Linked DNA regions of Homo sapiens. The protein of the gene in region 3 interacts with the protein of the main gene of each other region in a pairwise test. Each region holds a gene or a part of one and is shown on either strand. Other genes may lie near its edges.

What was found. Proteins that work in one complex are often made in the same cells at the same time.
Region 1: the proteins of ZMIZ2 (region 3) and CPNE7 interact in binary tests that used the Homo sapiens proteins (3 or more experiments, as listed by UniProt).
Region 2: the proteins of ZMIZ2 (region 3) and SALL2 interact in binary tests that used the Homo sapiens proteins (3 or more experiments, as listed by UniProt).

Annotation. Positions count from the first base shown.
Region 1 is NC_000016.10:89,592,733-89,597,746, forward strand, and holds the end of CPNE7 (copine-7), read left to right. Parts: exon of another isoform or gene 1-1,232; intron 1,233-2,634; coding exon 2,635-2,871; intron 2,872-3,098; coding exon of another isoform or gene 3,099-3,192; intron 3,193-3,751; coding exon 3,752-3,889; coding exon of another isoform or gene 3,890-3,906; 3' UTR 3,907-4,514; downstream 4,515-5,014. UniProt on the Homo sapiens protein: Calcium-dependent phospholipid-binding protein that may play a role in calcium-mediated intracellular processes.
Region 2 is NC_000014.9:21,523,347-21,531,351, forward strand, and holds the start of SALL2 (sal-like protein 2), read right to left. Parts: upstream 3,001-8,005; 5' UTR 2,782-3,000; coding exon 2,715-2,781; intron 2,309-2,714; coding exon 1-2,308. UniProt on the Homo sapiens protein: Probable transcription factor that plays a role in eye development before, during, and after optic fissure closure.
Region 3 is NC_000007.14:44,744,035-44,751,866, reverse strand, and holds the start of ZMIZ2 (zinc finger MIZ domain-containing protein 2), read right to left. Parts: upstream 3,021-7,832; 5' UTR 2,876-3,020; intron 2,053-2,875; exon of another isoform or gene 1,887-2,052; intron 962-1,886; exon of another isoform or gene 776-961; intron 1-775. UniProt on the Homo sapiens protein: Increases ligand-dependent transcriptional activity of AR and other nuclear hormone receptors.

The DNA of each region.
Region 1 (5,014 bases), on a different chromosome or scaffold from region 3:
CGCCCAGCCCAAATTTTTTTTATTGTGATAAAATATGCACAGTTTAAAATTTACCATTGTAACCATTTTTTTCTTTTCTTTTTTTTTTTTTTTTTTTGAGATGGAGTTTTACTCTTGTCACCCAGGCTGGAGTGCAGTGACGTGATCTCGGCTCACTGCAAGCTCCGCCTCCCGGGTTCACGCCATTCTCCTGACTCAGCCTCCTGAGTAGCTGGGAGTACAGGCGCCCGCCACCATACCCGGCTAATTTTTATATTTTTGTAGAGATGGGGTTTCACTGTCTTGGCCAGGCTGGTCTCAAACTCCTGACCTCAAGTGATCTGCCTGCCTCAGCCTCCCAAAGTGCTGGGATGGGATTACAGGTGTGAGCCGCCGCACCTGGCCTGTAACCATTTTATTGTATCCAGTTCAGAGGCACGAGGTACATTCATGATGATCAAACATCACCCGTCTACTTACATCTTCAAGCCAAATGGGAACCCTATATCTGTTTGCATCTATTTTTAATTTATACAGATAGTATCGTGATAAAGACTTTGATGCTTTTTAAAAAACTTGGCACTGCACACACACATTTGTGAACCGTCCGAGAGCACGTTGCAACATCACGGTTTTACCTCTTAATATTTTTTTTTTTTTGAGATGGAGTCTCGCTCTTCACCCAGGCTGGAGTGCAGTGGCGCGATCTTGGTTCACTGCAAGCTCCGCCTCCCGGGTTCACGCCATTCTCCTGCCTCAGCCTCCCAAATAGCTGGGACTACAGGCGCCCGCCACCACGCCCGGCTAATTTTTTGTATTTTTAGTAGAGACGGGGTTTCACTGTGTTAGCCAGGATGGTCTCGATCTCCTGACCTCGTGATCCGCCCACCTCGGCCTCCCAAAGTGCTGGGATTACAGGCGTGAGCCACCGCGCCCGGCCTACCTCTTACTATTTCAGTGTATATTTCCTAAGATCAAAGATATTCTCTTGTATAACCATAGCACAAATACAGATTTCAGGAAATTGAATTTAGATACAATCCTTTTATCTAATACATAGACTATATTCCAATTTCATTCATTGGCACAATCATAACTTTCAAAGCAGTATTGTTCCTGGCCCAGGAGCCAGTCCGGAGTCGAGGATTGCGTTCAGCTGTTATGTTCCTGTGTGGCTGGGAAGCGGGTCTCAGACGGTTTCATCTGTAAATGTCAGTATCAGCGTCTAATAAAGATAAGCCTCTTTTTAAGCAGCCACGACACCTGATCACACCTAACCACCACTCCTGGCATTGCACATCCGTCTGGTGTTTGTGTTTCCTGTTGTCTTACCCGTGACATGGTTTTCTGTGGTTAGAATTGGGTTGAAACGAGGACTCAGACATGATCAGCTGAGCCCTCGGTCCCTCTCCTGGACACGAAGCTCCCGCCCTAGTGGGGCCCCACGGTGGGTTTTGGTGCCTGGTGCTCGCACAGTTGGCAGAGGGGGGTGGGGGCCTCATCTGGGGTTGGGAGGGGGTGGGGGGCTTTCTGAGGCTGGGCTGTTTATCTGGAGGCCGAGAGCCAGGCTGGGCACAGCCGTGGGTGCTTGTAGGCCTGGACCAGAGACTGCCTTGCAAACAGGTAATTCTTCCCACAGGTGTGGGGCTCAGAGAGGGGGAGATGGGGAGGGCACAAAAAGAGAGCCTCTTGGAGAAGGCGACTCTGAGTGGGGTCCTGGGGCCCCTGTTCGTTTCCAGGACACATCTGCCCTCAGTGGGACGGGCTCAGTCAAGGCCAGCCCAGGGGAGGCTGCTGTGGGCTCCCGCTCTGCTGCTCAGGCGAGCCCTGCTTCTCTTTATGTTTCCCGTTGTCCACAGTTTGGGCAAGATTATTGAGTGGGGTTTTTTTTAAACAATGGAAGTTGATTTTATTTGAAGTTCCATTCTGCCTTTTTTTTTTTTTTTTTTTTTTTTTTTTTGGAGACAGTCTCACTCTATCGCCAGGCTGAAGTGCAATGGCGCGATCTCAGCTCACTGCACCCTCTGCCTCCCAAGTTCAAGCGATTCTCATGCCTCAGCCTCCCGAATAGCTGGGATTACAGGCGCCCACCACCACGCCCAGCTAGTTTTTGTATTTTTAGTAGAGATGGGGTTTCACCATTTTGGCCAGGCTGGTCTCGAACTCCTGACCTCAGGTGATCCGCCCGCCTCGGCCTCCCAAAGTGCTGAGATTACAGGCGTGAACCACCGCGTCCGGCCAACACTCAGTCTTGTGGCAGCACAGCGGGCACCCTGGAGAGACTGGAGCAGGGTGTGTGGGCTGCAGGTCTGGCTCCTGGGATCGCAGATTTCTCCTCTGGCCTCAGACCTCCCATCCAGGCACTGTGAGCTCATCAGTAAAATGTAGACTTCGTAGCACCCCCTCCACAGCCCTCCGTGAGACTCGTGGAGATTTCCTGAGCTGGGCACAGGAGGCCCAGAGTGCCCGCCACGGAGGGGGCTCCTGACCCACTGTTGTTCGTGATGTTTGTGATGTAGGCATCACACTCTGAAGGCGGTTCTAGGAAGCTCTGACGCACGGAGGCACTCTGGGCTGTCTGGGGGCCCGTGGGTTGCAGGGCGCATGTGGGCCATGGCAGGTGTGGTGTTGCTGATGCCTTTCCTGTGCCCCCAGCAATACTACATCCTGCTGATCCTGACGGACGGCGTGGTGACCGACATGGCCGACACACGGGAGGCCATTGTGCGTGCCTCACGCCTGCCCATGTCCATCATCATCGTGGGCGTGGGCAACGCCGACTTCACCGACATGCAGGTCCTGGACGGCGACGACGGCGTCCTGCGCTCCCCACGGGGTGAGCCCGCGCTCCGGGACATCGTACAGTTCGTGCCCTTCCGGGAGCTCAAGAACGTGAGTGTCCTGGAGGGGCTCCGTCAAGGCCGGCTTGGGGGTCCCTGTTCATGTCACTGCCCAAGACCTTCCCAGGCCAGGCTCACGCCAGTGGATGTGGCAGGTCCCTTCTTGTGTCTGGGGGATCCTGGGCTGTTCCCCCCAGTCAAGAGCAGTATCTGAAGCCAGGACTTTGAGCACCTGAAACACCCTCCACCGTTTTGAAACTTGTCGAATCTACACAAAAGCAGAGAACAGCACAAGGGGCTCCTGGGATCCACCACGCGGCTTCCCCCGTTGCTGCCAACCTCTGCGACCCGGCGAGACACGCACAGCACACACGTGAGGTTCTACCCGCCGAGACACACACAGCACACACGTGAGGTTCTACCCGGTGAGACGCACAGCACACACGTGAGGTTCTACCAGGCAAGACACACATGTCACACATGAGGCCCTACAGCAAGACGTGCATGCCACATAGATGTGAAGTTCTACACAGCAAGACACCACAGACATGCATGAAGACACGGACACGTGACATTCTACGCAGTGAAACATGCATATTACAGACACATGAAGCTCTGCAGTGAGTCACATCACACAGACACGCTCAGGCTTTGCCGGGGAAGTGTGGGTGGGGCCTGGACCATGGAGGTGGCCTCGCCTCCCGTGTCAGCACTTTTCATCTCCGTGCTTGGGGGGCTGGAAAGACCCACGTGCAGCCTCATGTGGCCGACATCCTCAGCAAGTCTTGCCCGGCACCCAGGTGAGCCTCTGGTGGGGGTGGGTAGTCACCACTCGGCTCTGGAGGATGAGGCCTGGGCCATAATCCAGTTGCAGGGACGGATGATCTCCATCTCGAAGGTCCCAGAGGTAACTGCGTTGTCCCATCCTCCAGGCATCCCCTGCGGCGCTGGCCAAGTGCGTGCTGGCCGAGGTCCCGAAGCAGGTGGTGGAGTACTACAGCCACAGAGGCCTGCCCCCGAGAAGCCTGGGTGTCCCTGCCGGAGAGGCCAGCCCAGGCTGCACACCGTGAAGATGTGGAGGGCGTAGGGTGGGGGCAGTGAGGAATGGGTCCGTACAGCCTCTGTCTGCAACATGCTTGGGGTCCCTTAAGCTCCCTCCGACCTCCCAGAAGCCTCCAGTCCCCACCAGGCCCCACTCCCAGTCCTCCTGGGATCCTGCTGGCTTGGGCCCGGCTCTGGGGCCCCCAAGGCCGAAGGGTGACAAAATACAGGCCCCCATGCCTGGCCCTGCCTGAGCCAGGTGGGTGGAGGGAGGGAGATCATGAGGGACTTGGAGGGAGCTGGGAGTTCATCCACGGGAGACCCTGCCCCGATGAGAAGGGGCAGGGACTGGGGGCTCTGCTTTGCGTCTAACCTTTGTGGGGGAGGGCCAGCAAGGCAGTCCCCCCACGCCCGAGAAAGCCTGGGGGACCCAGACACCTGTCCCCACAGTCAAAGCCTGGGGACCCAGACATCCTGTCCCCACAGTCAGCCTCCTGTCCCTGCTGGTGCCCCCACACCCACCTACCCTGTGCTTTTTGCCGTCGGGCCTCTGCACCTGGGTCCATGGGGTCTGCGGGGTCTGCGGGGTCTGCCTGGCCTGTGGGTTCTGCCGGTGGGGCTTCAGGAGTAATAAAGTGTCACCCTATCCTTGTAGTTCTCTTGTGCCTTCAGTCCCTTCCCCAACCCCCCAGAGGGCTGGGCCTGGCTTCCAAAGTGCCCACATCTGAGGCAGGGGCTCTCCCAGGCCCAGCACACCAGGATCCTCCCTGGACTGAATGGGATGCGGGATGCACAGGCTGCCAGGGGCAGAGAGCGGGGATCCGCACCATGGCTGCCTCCACCCGCGAAGGAGCTCCACTCGGCTTCCTGGGACTCCCAGGCCTGAAACCCAGTGAGTGAGGACTGTGGACGTGATGCAGGGGTGCCAGGAGCCTCCCACATGGCCTGCACCGCAGGGAGCTGGGCTGGAGGGTGAAGCCTCCATGTGATGTTCGTGGAGCCGGGGCATCTCCCACCTGCTGGGACCTCCTCGCCCTGAGTTTGAGATTTCCCCTGAATGATCTTGCCTGAGAAAAACAAATTGTCCTAACCCTGAATCCAGGCCCACCCATCCCCACATCGGTCCATCCACCCACCCATCCGTCCACCCATCG
Region 2 (8,005 bases), on a different chromosome or scaffold from region 3:
TTCTCACCTCCACTCTCTGAGCCTCTCCCTGCCAGGGAATCTTCATCAGTCACATCTTCCTCTTCTTCCTCATCCTCCTCTTCCTCCTCCTCAGACAACTCCTCTTCCGGTGATGGCTGCTGGGACTGCTGCTGGGGGAAACTCCGTGCCCCGGAGACTGTAGATTGCTCGGAGCCATTCTCCTGAGCAGCTCCTCCACCTTCAGGGAGTGCAGTACCACCGTTGGGGATCTGGCCCCCCAGGTGCATCCGGACATGCTGCTGCAGAGTGACAGCATTGGTGAACTTCTTCTGGCAGATGGGGCAGGAATTCTGTGCCCGGGCAGCTGGACTGGCCTTGTGGCCCACGAAATGTGCACGCAGATTACCCCTGGTGGAGAAGGCTCTGCCACACACTTTGCATTTGAAGGGCCTCTCACCTCCATGTTGGCCATAATGAAGGCGTAGGGCCCGAGGACAGCTAAGCACTCGGAGACAGATGACACACTGGTTAGGTCCAGAAGAGGCTGAGGATGAAGGTGCAGGGGCAGAGGTGGTGGGGGCTCCTGAGGCAGCTGAGGTCACCGCCACAGCTCCTTGCCGGTCAATCTTTTCTACCAGTTGCTGCAGCTTTGATGTCTCAGAGGGTGAGGCCCCCAAGGGCTCTAGCACATAGGGGAAGGGGAAGCTGCCAGTGGACTTGAAGTGGTTGGTAAGCAGTGCCCAGCTTGGTAGTGAAGTCACCAACTTACTTAGTTGCATGCGAGTTGCCGTGCTACTTTCTGCCACTCCACTGATGGCTGAGCCCTCACTCCCTGGGGGGGTGTTTTCATCAGCTTTATTCTTGGGTTCCACTGCTTTCATGAGCACAAACTTATTGAAAGCAGGGAGTCCTGGAGCCGTGGCTGTGCCTGCACTGGTGGAGAGCAGAGTCAGGCTCTCTGTGGCACTGAGTGCTGTTGTGGAGGCCACCAGAGGCTTGCGCTCAACCCCTCCACCTGGAGTGGCTGCCTCCTCCTCGGCCTTCTCTGGTGGCACGGACATACCATAAGGCAAGCCACTGCTGGTAATGACATAGTCTAGGTGCTCTGGTACTGGGTGTGGGTTCATCTGCACATGTGGGTACTTCTCACGATGCCGGTGGAAATGCACTTTGAGGTTGCCACGGGTGGTAAAACGGTTTCCACAGACATTGCACTTATAGGGCCTCTCACCCGTGTGGGAACGAAGGTGGATCTGCAGGGCACTGTCACTGCCAAATACTTTGGCACAGAAGCGGCATTTGTGCCTTCCACCAGGCTTCTCCAAGGGACCCATCACTTCTCCGTAGCTCAGCTCACCACTTCCATTCTTTGGCTTCAGGAGCCCTGGGGAGGCAGTGGCCTCAAGGCCTCGGGCTGCCCCAAGACACTGTGCTGCCAGTAGTCCCGTGGTGCTTGGGAATGCCAGATGAGGCGAGGCAATCAGCTGATCTGTGCTGCCTGGCAAGGCTGGGGAAGGGGCAGGGGTGGGTTTGTGGCTTCGCCCAACCCCTCCAGCAGAGAAAGGATGCTGTGACCCCAGTGGGTGGTAAAGGTGGAAGAAGGCCTGCTTGGGCGTTTCTGCCCCTGAAGAGGAAGAGGAGGAGGAGGAGGAAGATGCCAGTGTCTTGCTGGTTTGGACAGGCTTGATGGGGCTGAAGAGGGGTAGTAGGGGCTTGGTGGAAGAGGCAGTCCCTGTCCCAGGTAGCTCTGAGGGACTGGCAGGGGCACCCACCGTCTGGCCTAAGGAGCCAAGCAACAGCACCTGCCTGCAGATTTGCTCAGTCATCTGCATCTGATGGATCTGCCGCTGCTGCAGCACCCGTAGCTCTTCCAAGATCAGGGGGATATTCAAGTGGCCACTGCCTACCCCTGGGGGCGGAGGGGGTGGTGGAGGAGGAGGGGGTGCAGGGGTCGATTCTGGAGGTAATGGGGTTGCTCCCAGCTTGGGACTGGCCAAGATCAGGCCCCCGCCTCCCCCAGCCGCTGTACCTGTGGCAGCGACCAGGAAATGCCCTGAAGACTCCTCTCCTCTCCTCTCTGGGCCCCAGGTGGGATCCGTGGGCACGGAGGACCCAGAATCTGGGGGGTTGCTATGCTCTGTGTCCATGACCTGAGGATTATTGTGACCCTCAGGCCGGGGTTCAGAGGAGGCCGAAGAGTTGTTGGGGTTCTCCTGGCCCCCAATTATCACCATTACAGGAGGGTCAGTAGAACATGCGTTCTGGTGGGCGAGGAATTCAGTTGGGTCAGTGAATTGTGCGCAGCACTTGGCACAGACTTGGGGGTGATCCTCCTCGCTAGCATCACCTGGGGAGAAGACAAGGAGAGAGAGCGTGGGTGGCGCAGTTGGGTTGGGTATACCGAGGCTCTAATTAACAAGGAGGCCAGTAACCGCTAGTTGGGGGTGGGGAGATGAGCTCACCATCAGGGCCATGCAGAAGTCTAGAGCTCAGGCCTGATCCGTGTGGACAGGAGACAACCCGGCATGGGGCAGGGGGGTGGGGAGGGAGGAGGGGAGGGGGGCAAGAGCATGCTACTCCCCTCCTCAGCCACCCTCCCTTCCCCAGGCCACAAGCGAGTTCACGGAATAGGTGTGGGGACAGGGGCCTACGCAGAGAATCATGCATTTTCTCCCACCCACCGAAAGTCTTCGCCGCCCCTGCGCATCCCCCTCCGCCCCCACCCCTGCCCAGCCCGACCGACCCTACCGCACCTCCGAGCTCTGCCGGCTCCCCGCAGGGCACCCCGAGACGAGAGCTCCTCTCGGATTCGTGCGCCATGGTTGTGGGGGAAGTGGAGGGCCAGGTGGGGTGGGAGACAATGGATATTGGGATTGAGGGAGGCGATGGCCGCTGGGTCTGCGGCAGCCTCTGCACCCAGCGGCCCAGACTGCGGAGATGGAGATCGGCAGCGGCGGGGGCAGGGAGCAGCGGCGGAGGGGGAGGGGAGCGAGGAGGCGGGGAGAAGCTGGAGTGAGAAAGCGGGGAGAGGGGAGATCTGGGAGGAGCTGATGAGGAGGGGAGTTTATGGGGAGGAGCTGCTGGGGAGGGAGGCGGGAGCTAGAGGAGGCGGGAGAAGGGAGCGCTAGCGGGGGCGTGGGGGCGGGAGCTCAGAGCTCGGGAGAGTTTCCGGAGGCGCAGTGACAGGTGCTGTGAAGCACTGCGGGGGTCCACCTTTCCCGGTCCCTGGCCAGCTCCCCCCATCTGCAGATGCCTTTGCCCAGGCCTACCCTCCTCCCCCCGCCCTCCCCTCCTAAGCTCTAGGGGCACAGTGGGAAACGTAGCCCTGCTCAGTGGAGCAAGGCGATAGGCTTCTCTTATTTTTCTTTGGATAAAGGATCCGCTGAGCTTGGAAAAAGTGGATTCCAGAGAGGGTCGTCTGATCTCCTCAGAGGTCTGAGGGCCAGAAGAAGAGGGGGAGATCAGAACATCCACTCCTCACCAGCACACACACCCCAAAATATTCGAAGTTTTGTCTCGTCTTTCTCACTTCCATTCCCACCCTACCCCCATCCCTCTCCACAAAAGAAGTTTCTCAGGGTGGGCGGCTGCAAGGTAGAATTTCCCAGGAAGTCATTTCAGGACTCTCTGCGGAACACTAAGCCCCTTCACTCCCCGCCCCTCCTCCCCCTGAATAATAGCTGAATGCAGGTTACTCCGCAGATCGCCCAGCCTACACAACACCTAATTCATAGAGTCCATGCTTATTTAATAAGCCATCTCCTATTTAGTACCCTCTTCCTCCTCTATTCTCCTCTTGCAACATTCCTCACACCGTCACTATTAAAGACAGTGGGTTTGGGGAGACGCTAGCCTGCAGAGGCCTACGGAGGCCCACCCAGCTCTAACCTGGGGGGGAGGGGAGCCCTCTTGAAACAATGCGGTAGGAACTACCAGGCAGCCCTCAGTGTCTAAAGCCCTTTCAGCCCCAGCCTGATTTGAATGCTTAGAAATAGCTAACACCTGCTCACCATCACAGAGGCAGCCTCCTATTCAGACAGGATAAGTAAGAATAAAATGCCTCCTGGACCAGGTATTCTGGCATTCTCTTTTTTACCTTGAAATGAGTCTTAAAGTGCTTCCCACTTCCTAAAATACTTTCTCTTACATGCAGGAAGTGACCACAAGTCCTTGGTTTTGTGGTTTCCCTGGGCATCAGTAAACCTAAATTGTTTTAATCCCAGTTCTATTCTTGCCTCACTGATAAAACTGAGACATGGTGGTCAGTCACACCATGTTATACCACCGTTTCCCTCTTCATAAAGTGGTAATATTGTAGCTGCAGTATTTTACTCAGAAAAATATTGTGGGGACAAAAAATTGAAAAATTGGACAATATTAATGTGTAAACCAGGTATGGTGGTGCACACTTGTAGCCCCAGCTACTTGGGAGGCTGAGGCAGGAGAATTGCTTTAGTCCAGGAGTTTGAGGCTGCAGTGAGCTGTGATCACACCTGTGAATAACCACTGCCCTCCAGCTTCGGCAACATAGTGAGGCCCCATTACTTTAAAAAAAAAAAAAAGCCGGGCGCGGTGGCTCACTGTAATCCCAGCACTTTGGGAGGTGGGCAGATCACGAGGTCAGAAGTTCCAGACCAGCATGGCCAACATGTTGAAACCCCGTCTCTACTAAAAATACAAAAATTAGCTGGGCATGATGGTACACCTTTAATCCCAGCTACTGGGGCAGCTGAGCCAGGAGAATGGCTTGAACCCAGGAGGTGGAGGTTGCAGGGGGCTGAGATCGTGGCATTGCACTCCAGCCTGGGCAACAAGAGTGAAACTGCGTCTCAAAAAAAAAAAAAAGTCTAAAAAAATTAATATGTACATGTGAGATTTTTAAAGTTTGGGGAGTCCTGAATTTAATCAATGAGATAATTTACATTGTCAGTAGCAAAATAATCGAAGTAACCTTAAATACACATATACTAAAATTAGATCTGTTTTCCATGTTGTTTGTTAATCTTATTAATTTCTGAGGTAAGATATTGGCTAATATCAGCAGCATATTTCAAAGGTAGGAAGTCTTTTATTGCAGTGGGTGGGGGAGCTGAAACAACCTATTTAAAATATTAGTAACATCCACTTTACTTCTCAACATAAATTTTGCCTGTGTTTTTAAACTTAAAACAGTTTACTGAATTATGTTTTGAAACTTCAGATAATAAGGCTCTTAGCATTGTGAGTCATAATTCTGAAATGGACGGGTTCTGTGCTTCCAGGCCTGGACTTACAAATGAGGGAGGGGGGTTCTATTTCAGTTTATGGCAAGTCACAGTTTTGTGCAATGTGGTTTATTTTTACAGATAAGGAAACTGAAGCTTGGAGAGGTTAAGTGACTTTTCCAAGTTCACACAGTAATTCAGTGAAGCAAGCATTCAGAATTTTGACTCCTGTCCAATGCTTTCTCAAGCACATCAACTTTGTATGGCTTCCCTAATGCTAGAGAAAGGGCCCTGTGTGGCTTCTACCTGCCATTTGCTCCCTGGCCTTAGTCAGGGAGAGGGAATCAGATGGAGGCTTTCTACTGAGCATTTGTTAATTAGCATTGAACATTTGATATCCAGTTGCTGTTTTGTCAAGTCTTCTGACAAGAAAAGAAATCCTTTTCTTTTCATCTTCTCCTGGGAAACACTGTCCCCTTTCTTGCTCTTTAATGAAATGTGCTTTCTGATGCGTAATTTGATCTAAGCTCTTCTTTAAGGTAAATTTAGTCCCTGGTGAAAGGTGACTGGATCAACAGCCACCTGTAAGAGGAACCCTCCATTTCTCAGTACTTTGCACTCACTGCACATCCTGAAAAGGGGGGCAGGATTCTTACACAAACATGAATGAAGTCACAAATGCAGGAATAAACTAAACTGGTAATGGTGTCCCTAGATAGCAGATAAGGTGAGGTAAGCTATCTCCGGTCAAATGCAAAGTCCGGGGTGGGACTAAGACCTGGACAAGCTTGTTTAAACTTATAGAGAGCTGAAATGACAAAGAAAAGGGAAACCAGGTGGCTTCCCTTCTAAATCTAGTGTCCCATCAGATTGCTTCTTTAGGCTTCAGAGAGAACTGTTCGGGAGAACAAAGAGAAAAATAGGTGAGTTGTATGTAGCAGGGTGATACATTTGAACAGCGGTTTTCAAATTTTGCTGCCCATTAGGATTACCAGAAGAGAGTTTTAAAATTTTTATGTTTAGGTGCAGTGGTCTGTTCCTTGTAGTCCCAGCTACTCTGGAGGCTGAGGCGGGAGGATCACTTGAGCTCAAGGGTTTGAGACTCCATCTCAAAATCTCAAAAAAAAGAAGAAAAAAAAAAGAAAAGAAAGTTTAAGCACAGTGGGTACCTCATGCCTATAATCCTAGCACTTTTGGAGGCCAAGGCAGGAGGATTGCTTGAGGCCAGGAATTTGAGACCAGCCTGCATAACATAGTGAGACCCCCATCTCTGCAAAAGCAACCAACCAACCAAACTTAAAAAAAATCCCTGTGTCCAGGCCACATCCCAGGCTAATTAATTCATAATCCCTGAGGATAGGATCCAGGCATTAGTTTGATAAAGCTCCTCAGGTGATTCCAATGAGAATACAAAGATGGTGACACAATGATGAGACCCACATGGAGGACTGCCCTTTCCATCATACCTTCCACCCTGCTCCTCACAGATCTTACCTGAGCTAAACTTGGCCACAATTGGGACACAGACAAAATGAACTCTCAATGCTAAATCTTCCCATCAGGTCCCCTCCCTACAGTGCCCACAACCACACATTAACTTCCTTGTATCCTTTCCCAGTGAAAAATCTGCTTCCATGAATAGAATTTGATATAATTTACACCTTACTGTAAGTTTAAGTGATTGCATTTCTTTCCCAGGTATGGGTATCTTGAAGCATATTTTTTTCTTTTTTAATTGATATTTGAGCCATATTTCTTTTTTTTTCTTTCTTTTTTTTTTTTTTTTTTTTTTTGAGACGGAGTTTTGCTCTCATTGCCCAGGCTGGAGTGCAATGGCATGATCTCGGCTCACCGCAACCTCCACCTCCCAGGTTCAAGCGATTCTCCTGCCTCAGCCTTCCCAAGTAGCTGGGATTACAGGCATGTGCCACCAAGCCCGGCTAATTTTGTATTTTTAGTAGAGATGGGGTTTCTCCATGTGGGTCAGGCTGGTCTCAAACTCCCGACCTCAGGTGATCTGCCAACCTCGGCCTCCCAAAGTGTTGGGATTACAGGCGTGAGCCATCGCGCCCGGCCACCATATTTCTAATTGTAAGGTGAAAGGCTTTGTTCTACAGAGTTCAAGCATCATCCACCCATTAAGGCTGGAGTGAAGTGGCACAATCATAGCTCACTGCAGACTCTACCTCCCAGGCTTAGGTGATCCTCCCACCTCAGCTTCCTGAATAGCTGGGACTACAGGCATGCACAATCATGCCCAGCTAATTAAAATATTTTTTTCTGTAGAGATGAGGTTTCACTATGTTGCCCAGGCTGTCTGGAATACCTGGGCTCAAGGGATCCTCCTGCCTTGTCCCCACAAAGTGCTGAGAGTACAGATGTAAGCCACTGCCTCTGGCCCACTTACTTATTATTGACACTGAACAATGCTAATTGGTAGCTTCCATAATTATGAATTGATTCTGTAACTATTGCTACTGACTACTTCTTAGGGAAATATCTCATCTTCTCCTCCTTACTCCTCTTTCCTAAATGTAGACACATAATAATCCTTTGCAACCCAGACCTACTAATGTAACTATGGCCTATGTAACACAGTAGACTAACAGGCACAATGATTGGTACACCTGGTGCTAAGTGAGAAAAAGATATTTGTTTCCAGAACAGGAATATCTTAGATCAAACATAAGAATGTTCTTTTAATGAAAATTTCTTTGACTTCAAAGGACTCAACACTTAACATGGAATTCATACCATTTTGGAGCTGGGACTTCAGAGATCTGACACTCTCATTGTCATTGTGCACAGTGATTCAGACCTGAGTTAAAGTCCCAGCTCTA
Region 3 (7,832 bases):
CCTCAGCCTCCTGAGTAACTGGACTACAGGTGTACACCACCATAGTCCATGCCTGGCTAATTTTTGTATTTTTAGTGGAGATGAAGTTTCGCCATGTTGGCCAGGCTGGTCTTGAACTCTTGACCTCAAGTGATCCACCCACCTCGGCCTCCCAAAGTGCTGGGATTAGAGGTGAGCACCACTGTGTCCAGCCAATAATTTCAAAATAAAAAGTTTAATTACAATACAACTGCTACCACCAGCCTTCTGTCTCCGCAGAACTGCTGTGACAATCTTTCCCCACTAGAAAGCTGGTTGGGTTGGCTGGCCACTTTGCTGTCCCAAGAACAGAGAGGGAATCTGGCAGGCAAGCAGATGTGCCCCCTCCCCCGCCCGTGGTCAAAGGCCTCAAAGTGCAGGCAGCACTCTGTGCAGCACTGCCTCATTTTAGGTCACCTAGGGCAGCAGCTCCCCAACTGCAGCACATCAAAACCAGCTCGCAGCTGGTGATGACAGGCTGCCCAGCCCCACCTGAAGTCAGTAGGATGGGCTGGGGCCTAAGCCCAGAATTTCTAACAAGTTTGCAGCTACTGCTGCTGCTGGTCCAGGAACTGTAGTTTGAGAACCTCAGATCTAGGAAATGCAGTGAGCTGGGGAGAAGGAGCACAGGGCAGGTACAAGGAGGGGAGGAGCCCACAGCAGGCTCCTATGTCACATGAGCCTGGGGAATTCCACCCCTGATGGTTCTCTGCTGTGGACAGAGACCACAAAGATTTCCAGTTCCCTCTGAGCTTACTCTTCACTGCACAGGGGGATTTCCTGCCGACCCGAACTCATGCCTCTGGTCTCCTCTCTGAGGACAGTCTCTCTGAAAAGACTTCCAGTCTCCAGGTCTGGTATCCTTGACCCTGTGCCCCTGATGATAGGATAGTGTTCTGCGTTGTGTGTGTGCAGATCCTCTTCTCATCTCCTGGCTTTGAGTCTGGGTTGGGAACAAGCCTGGAGCCTGGAATCTGGATCCCAGATCATGCAAGGCCCATGCCCACCAAGGGTCTTAGTGCCTGGCGCTTTCCTTGTAAACTAACTCCAGCTGGAAGCTAGGACCCCTTGAGAGATGGACAAGGTCAGTCTAGAGGGCCACAAGGCTTTCTCGGGGGTCAGATCACATCTTCCTCTAGACAGAGTTACAGAACTCACTACCCCAGACCTCTCTTCCCCAAATGTCCCAGAGTAGCTGCACCCCCAAGTCTCCTGGTTGACCTCCTGAGCCTTGTTCCATGCCACCTCTCTGCCTGCCTAGTCAGCTAGGAGCAGGACCAGCAAGTGGGCCCTGTGGCAGGCAACGCTTCTCAATAGGTCACACATCAGGACTCACTGTCTCCAAGATTGCAGGGTCAGGATCCAACCCAGGTGACAATGGAGTCAAAGGGTATTGAAGAAATGATGGCTGTGGAATGTTGCAGGAGCGGGGTCCTTGGTAGCAAAAAGTGGGGTACTCACATATACAGGTAGCTGAAAGTCCTGCCCCCTCTACCTGTAAGGCCACAGTACTAAAATGTCTAAGCGTGGGGCTAAGTCAGGATGCAGAGTTCATCAAAAAGTCCAGGAATAAGCAATGGCCCAGGCATGAGACATTTCAGTGAACAGCTGAAGGGACAACCTTAACCTGGCATCAGTTTACAATGTGTAAGATGGATATCTGGTAGCATCCTAGGACTGAGGACACATGACCACCTTCATGTCATCAGCCCTTGGGAGCTCAATCCCAATAATCAGGATGCTCCCCAAACATCTTAGGCCTGTCCTTCAGAAATCTACAACCGGCAACTGTCACCTGCTTGTTCTCTTCATTTACACTTCCAGCTTGTAACTATCCCCTGGGCATGACAAGGGCTAGAGGTCAGTACCTCTGGAAGTTAAGATTCCTTCACTTCTCCTGTTTCCACACTAAGCATCAAGGGATGCCCTCTGGTTCTAGCTTGCCAGAACTTGGTGGTGAGTCTGTGTCCATCCTATCCGTAATCACCACGGTCTCAGACCAAGTCACATGTTCCGTGTGTGTCCCTGTGAAATCTGCGATGACACAAATTAAAGACACCACCATGGATGTTCTGTAATACTGGAAAGAGGGTACCCTAGGGAGAAGGAGAGGCAGAACACTGCAGGGCAGAGGGTCCAGGGAATGGGAGGAGAGACACGGTAGGTGGAGGGGTAAACAAGGCACCGGGTGGGGGTGCCGCGGTGAAGGACACCTGGCACTAGGGAAGACAAGGCACCTCAGGGGAGCAGGGCATCCTCACGCCTGAGCTTCAGTATGTCCAGTTTGGAAAGGGGTGTCCCCATCAAAACTGGCAGCTGGGGGCTGGCCGCTCAGCGTCGTTCAGCCCAGGAGCGGAACAGCTCCTCCGCGAGCAGGTGACGGCCTCAGACGGCCCCCACATCGCCGTGCTGGTGGGCACGTAAGTAGGAGCGGAGGGGCGTACCATGTAGGTGAGACTGCCTGGCCCCAAAGCTAGGAACGATCAGGTTGGAGCGAAGGCCCGGCCAGCCTTCATCGCTCAGGAGAACCCCGAGCGCCGCTTACACCCCTCGGCCAGCCTCCAACAAAGACTCAGGGGAGGGCTGGATGACCCTGACGCCCACGGGGCCGAGCCTGCCCAAGACCACGACGCACGCGTGGCAGGTGCCGGCAGGTGGGCGGCAGAGCCTCTAGCCCCAGCCCAGCTGTGAACCCTACCGTGGCGCCGCAGCGGAACCGGGGCGCCCCGGGCGACCAGCTACACCTGCCTGCCCGCCCGCACCTGCCGGCCCGCACCTGCCGCACCTGCCTGCCCCCGCCGGCCCACACCTGCCTGCTGGCGGCGTTGCCAGGGGCCACCCCCAGGACCCCGCTCACCTCCGCCCGGCCTGGCCCGGCCCCTCGCCGTGGCGGCCCCCGGCCCGCGCCGCTCCATGCGCTCAGCCCGCCCTCCGCGCCGCCCGCCGCCCCGGGGCCGCCGCCACCCGCGCCATCGCGCCGCCGCCCGCTCCGAGGGCACAATGGAGCCGCCGCCGCGCCGCTCATGCATATGCATGACGCCGCGCAGCCGGCCCCGCCTCCCAGGCCAGAGCAGCAGAGCCCCGAGCCGGCGCTCGGGGCGGGGGCGGCCGCGAGCCCGAGCGGCCCAAAGCGGCAGGGTGGGGCCAGGGCCGCAGGTGGCTGGGCGGGCAGGAGACGCAGCCTGATCGCGACCTGCGCCCCCAGCCCCCTCCACACCTTTCTGAACGCGGCGTCGGCAGAGCCACTGCGCTCTTCCTGCTCGCAGTCCGCCGGGAGCGGGGCGGGGCCGGGCGGCGGAGGCGGGGCCAGGACGCCGGGGCGGGGCCGAGTGGAAGGCGGGGCCAAGGTGCCGGGGCGGGGTCGGGAGGAGGAGGCGGATCCAGAGAGCCGGGGTGGGGCCAGGGCTCGGGGCGGGCCCCGGCGGAGGAGGAAAGGAAGAGTGAGTCCTTGCCCTTCCCCCACCCGCCCCGCCCGCGCCCCGCCCGCGCCCCCCCTGCTTCCTGGGAGTCCATTGCTCTGGCCCGGCGGGCGGGGACACGACTGGGAGACAGAGAGACCCAGGGTGCCACTTTTGGGAGGGGATCTTATTAAAGGACTCCGGAAGCCCCTCGTTAAAGCAGAAAACTAAACTTAACAAGTTCGCTGTCCTCACTGCTCAGTTCTCTCTTCCCAGTGGTTCTCCTTCTGGAAAAAGTCACTATTGAGCTAGTCTAGCCTGATGGAATAGCCTCTCTGATCAGTTTCGATCTTTGAAATGCTATTATCAGCCTTTAAGTTATTCTTGACTTTTCCTACCGTAAGTTGAGGAAGACCACATTCTCTCAACTACCCATAATTAATTTTTCTTAATTGTGGTAAAATACACATAACGTAAAACTTACCATCTTAACTGTTTCCAAGTGTAGTTCTGTGGCACCAAGTACATTCACATTCTTGTGCAACCACCAACCGTCTCCAGGACTTTTTCATCTTCTCAAATGGAAACTCCATACCCAGTAAACACTAGCTCCCCATTCTTTCCTCCTCCTAGCCTTTGGCATTCACTATTCGTCTCTAAATTAGACTACTCTAAGGACATCGTATAAGTGGAATCATACATTATATGTCTTTTTGTGACAGTCTTACTTTAGTTAGCACAGTGTCCTCACTTCCATCCATGTTGTGGCATGTGTCAGAATTTCTTTCTTTCTTTCTTTCTTTCTTTCTTTCTTTCTTTCTTTCTTTCTTTCCTTTCTCTCTCTCTTTCTTTCTTTCTTTCTTTCCTTCCTTCTTTCCTTCCTTCTTCCCTCCCCTTCCCTTCCCTTCTTTTTTTTGACGGAGTCTCACTCTGTCGCCAGGCTGGAGTGCAGTGGTGCAATCTCGGCTCACTGCAACCTCCACCTCCCAGGTTCAAGCGATTCCCCTGCCTCAGCCTCCTGAGTAGCTGAGACTACAGGGGCACGCCACCACGCCTGGCTAATTTTTTTGTGTGTGTGTTTTAGTAGAGACGGGGTTCATCATGTTGGCCAGGATGGAATCGATCTCCTGACCTCGTGATCCGCCTGCCTGGGCCTCCCAAAGTGTTGGGATTACAGGCGTGAGCCACGGCGCCCAGCCCCTTCTTTCTTATGGCTGAATAATATTCCATTGTATGCATATTCCACATTTAAGTTATCCATTCATCTATCAATGGATACTCCACAATTAATTTTTGACATTGTTGAAATTTCTTCCCTGAAGGCCGCCTCTGAACTCTGTGCTCTATTTCTTTTGGGAATCATTCGTTCATTGAACAAATATGGCAGGCCTGCTGTACAACAGTCCCTGGTCTGGGGTCTGTGAACACTGGTCTGTCCCCAGGAACCAGGAGAATAAGGCCCCTCCATCCATACAGCAAGCATGTTAGAGGGGACAAACAGAAGGAAATGAGTTAACAGGTAACAGTGTGTCTGTCAGAAAGAGTGTTAGGAAGAAAACTAAATCAGGGCCAGAGAATGGGGAGGGAGTGATGAGGTATGAGGGACGGATTCTCTGTGGAGCTGGCCCTGAAGAAGAGACCCAAATGAAGGGGGAGGCAGGCACCAGGGGACCCTGACCATTCCTCTGTCTCGGAAGAGGCTGCATGTATGGGGGAGTTGCAGGCAGGTTTGTGGAGGATGCTGGAAGTGGCCACGCCAAGCATCCCAGGTGCCCCCAGGGCAGGCATCTCTCTCACCTCCTAACTGCTTCAATAATTCCTGCCCTGCTCCCCTGGGAAAGGCCACCTGGTGTCCACTCCTTTCTAGGGAATGTTTTCATTTTCTACTATATGATGAATTGTTAAGAAAGTCTTCCTTGAGGCCGGGCACAGTGGCTCACGCCTGTAATCCTAGCACTTTTGGAGGCCAAGATGGGTGGATCACCTGAGATCAGGAGTTCGAGACCAGCCTGGCCAACATGGTGAAACCCTGTCTCTACTAAAAAATACAAAAATTAGCCAGGCATGGTGGCGTGAAACCCTACTCTACTAAAAATACAAAAATTAGCCAGGTGTGGTGGCATGCACCTGTATTCCCAGCTATTCGGGAGGCGGAGGCAGGAGAATCGCTTGAACCCGAGAGGCAGAGGTTGCAGTGAGCTGAGATCGCACCACTGCACTCCACCGTGGGTGACAGAGCGAGACTCTATCCCCCCACCATCACCCCCCCAAAAAAAAAAGTTGCCTGGCGCGGTGGCTCACGCCTGTAATCCCAGCACTTTGGGAGGCCGAGGCAGGCAGATCACGTGAGGTCAGGAGTTCGAGACCAGCCTGGCCAACATGGTGAAACCCTGTCTCTACTAAAAGTACAAAAATTAGCCGGGCATGGTGGTGTGTACCTGTAGTCCCAGCTACTCGGGAGGCTGAGGCAGGAGAATTGCTGAACCCGGGAGGTGGAGGTTGCAGTGAGCCGAGATCACACCACTGCACTCCAGCCTGGACGACAGAGTGAGATTCTGTCTCAAAAAAAAAAAAAAAAGTCTTCCTCATTTACTAGAATAAAAAAACTGCCTTATTGAAGCTTTTCCTCTACAAGTGCATAAAATAAGAATCATCACTTTGTTATTTGACAGCTCTTCAAATATTAAAAGCAACTTCTCAATCCCCCAGTCTTCTGTTGGAGGAATAATGCTCCCAGTTCCTTAAGTGTTAACAGTAACACAATTTTCAGATCCTGTACCAACTGGCCACTCTCCTTTAGACAGGCACCAGTTAGACAATATCGCTTTTAAAATGTGACACCAGAAAGGGAACCTGATATCCTAAATGTAATCAGCCTAGCCCAGCGTCCAGGGGCTCCTGCGAGTCCACAGTCTCCTACAGTTGGTGTGGCCTTAACCTGAATTTGGTTTTTAACCAGTTTGGGTACCCCCAGTTACTATGACTCTTGACTTGCAAAACTAACTTTAAAAAGAAAAAGGTAGGCCGGGCGCAGTGGCTCACGCCTGTAATCCCAGCACTTTGGGAGGCCGAGGTGGGCGGATCACGAGGTCAGGAGATCGAGACCATCCTGGCTAACATGGTGAAACCCTGTCTCTACTAAAAATACAAAACATTAGCCAGGCATGGTGGCGGGCCCTGTAGCCACAGCTACCTGGGAGGCTGAGGCAGGAGAATGGCGTGAACCCAGGAGGTGGAGCTTGCAGTCAGCGAAGATCACGCCACTGCACTCCAGCCTGGGCGACAGAGCGAGACTCCATCTCAAAAAAAAAAAAAAAAGAGAAAGGTGCTGCTGCTCCTTTGCATACAAGCGGTATATTCTCATTGTGGAAAATACAGAGAAATGTTCAAAATACCTTAAAACTGTTCAGAGATAATTCCAGTCAATTGTTTGCTCTGTTTTTTTCCCAGATGGTTCTCTTTGCATATCTTGATGTTGTGGAGAATATGGCATATGTATGATTTTGCATTCTTATTTTTTCACATTATCAACATAAACATTTCCCTTACAAGCATTATCTGTGTTTCTCACAAAATAAATACTTCAAAGATTTATTTACAAGGATGTTTGCTGTGACATTAGGATATTGAAAAATTACACACAAGCTGTATTCATTCATTCAACAATTTTCTGTTGAGCTTCTACTGTGTGCCAGATACCACTCTCAGTGCTGGAAACATGGCAGTAAGTAAAACTGATGAAAATCTGCATTGTCGTGGAGCTTGTGTTAGCAAGCTAATAGTTACATCCTAGTAGGTAATAGTTAAGTAGAACGCACCCACAGGTTGGAAATCATGTTTTTGAAGAATATTTAATGGTATGAGCAGACAGTCACAATTTGCTAACTGAAAACATCATACAAAGTTGCACAATGCCAACATCTTTGTTTCCTGAAAAGCCTTTACGGAGCACACAGTCTTCCCACAGGCCTCTAATTCATTATACGGGGAGAAAGGAACCTTTATAATAACATTGGTCAGACACTACCTTAGCAAAATGACCAAGGTCAACAACACCAACAGTGGGACCATTTGACATCCTGGGTACCTGATGTGATACTCAGAGAAAAGATACAGACTCCTTCAAGTAGAATTTCCAGCCAGAAATGTTCAACCTGAATCTGATCATGAAAAAATAAGACAGATCTACACAAAGGCTCAGTCTCCAGCACTGTCTGTGACTCTCAGAGAACGTCAGGCCTGGGGAAATGGTCTCATTTCTCGGTAAGCAGGTCTGTGCAAGCCTGCCCCTAAAGTCGGAGGAAGCTAAGAGGTTAAAGAAAGAGGCTGACAAATTCAGTTTCTCCAAAAGAAACATTTAATAGGAACTCATGAGCTGAAGCCCTGTCTGTGTATCAGGGGCTTACATGGGATAGG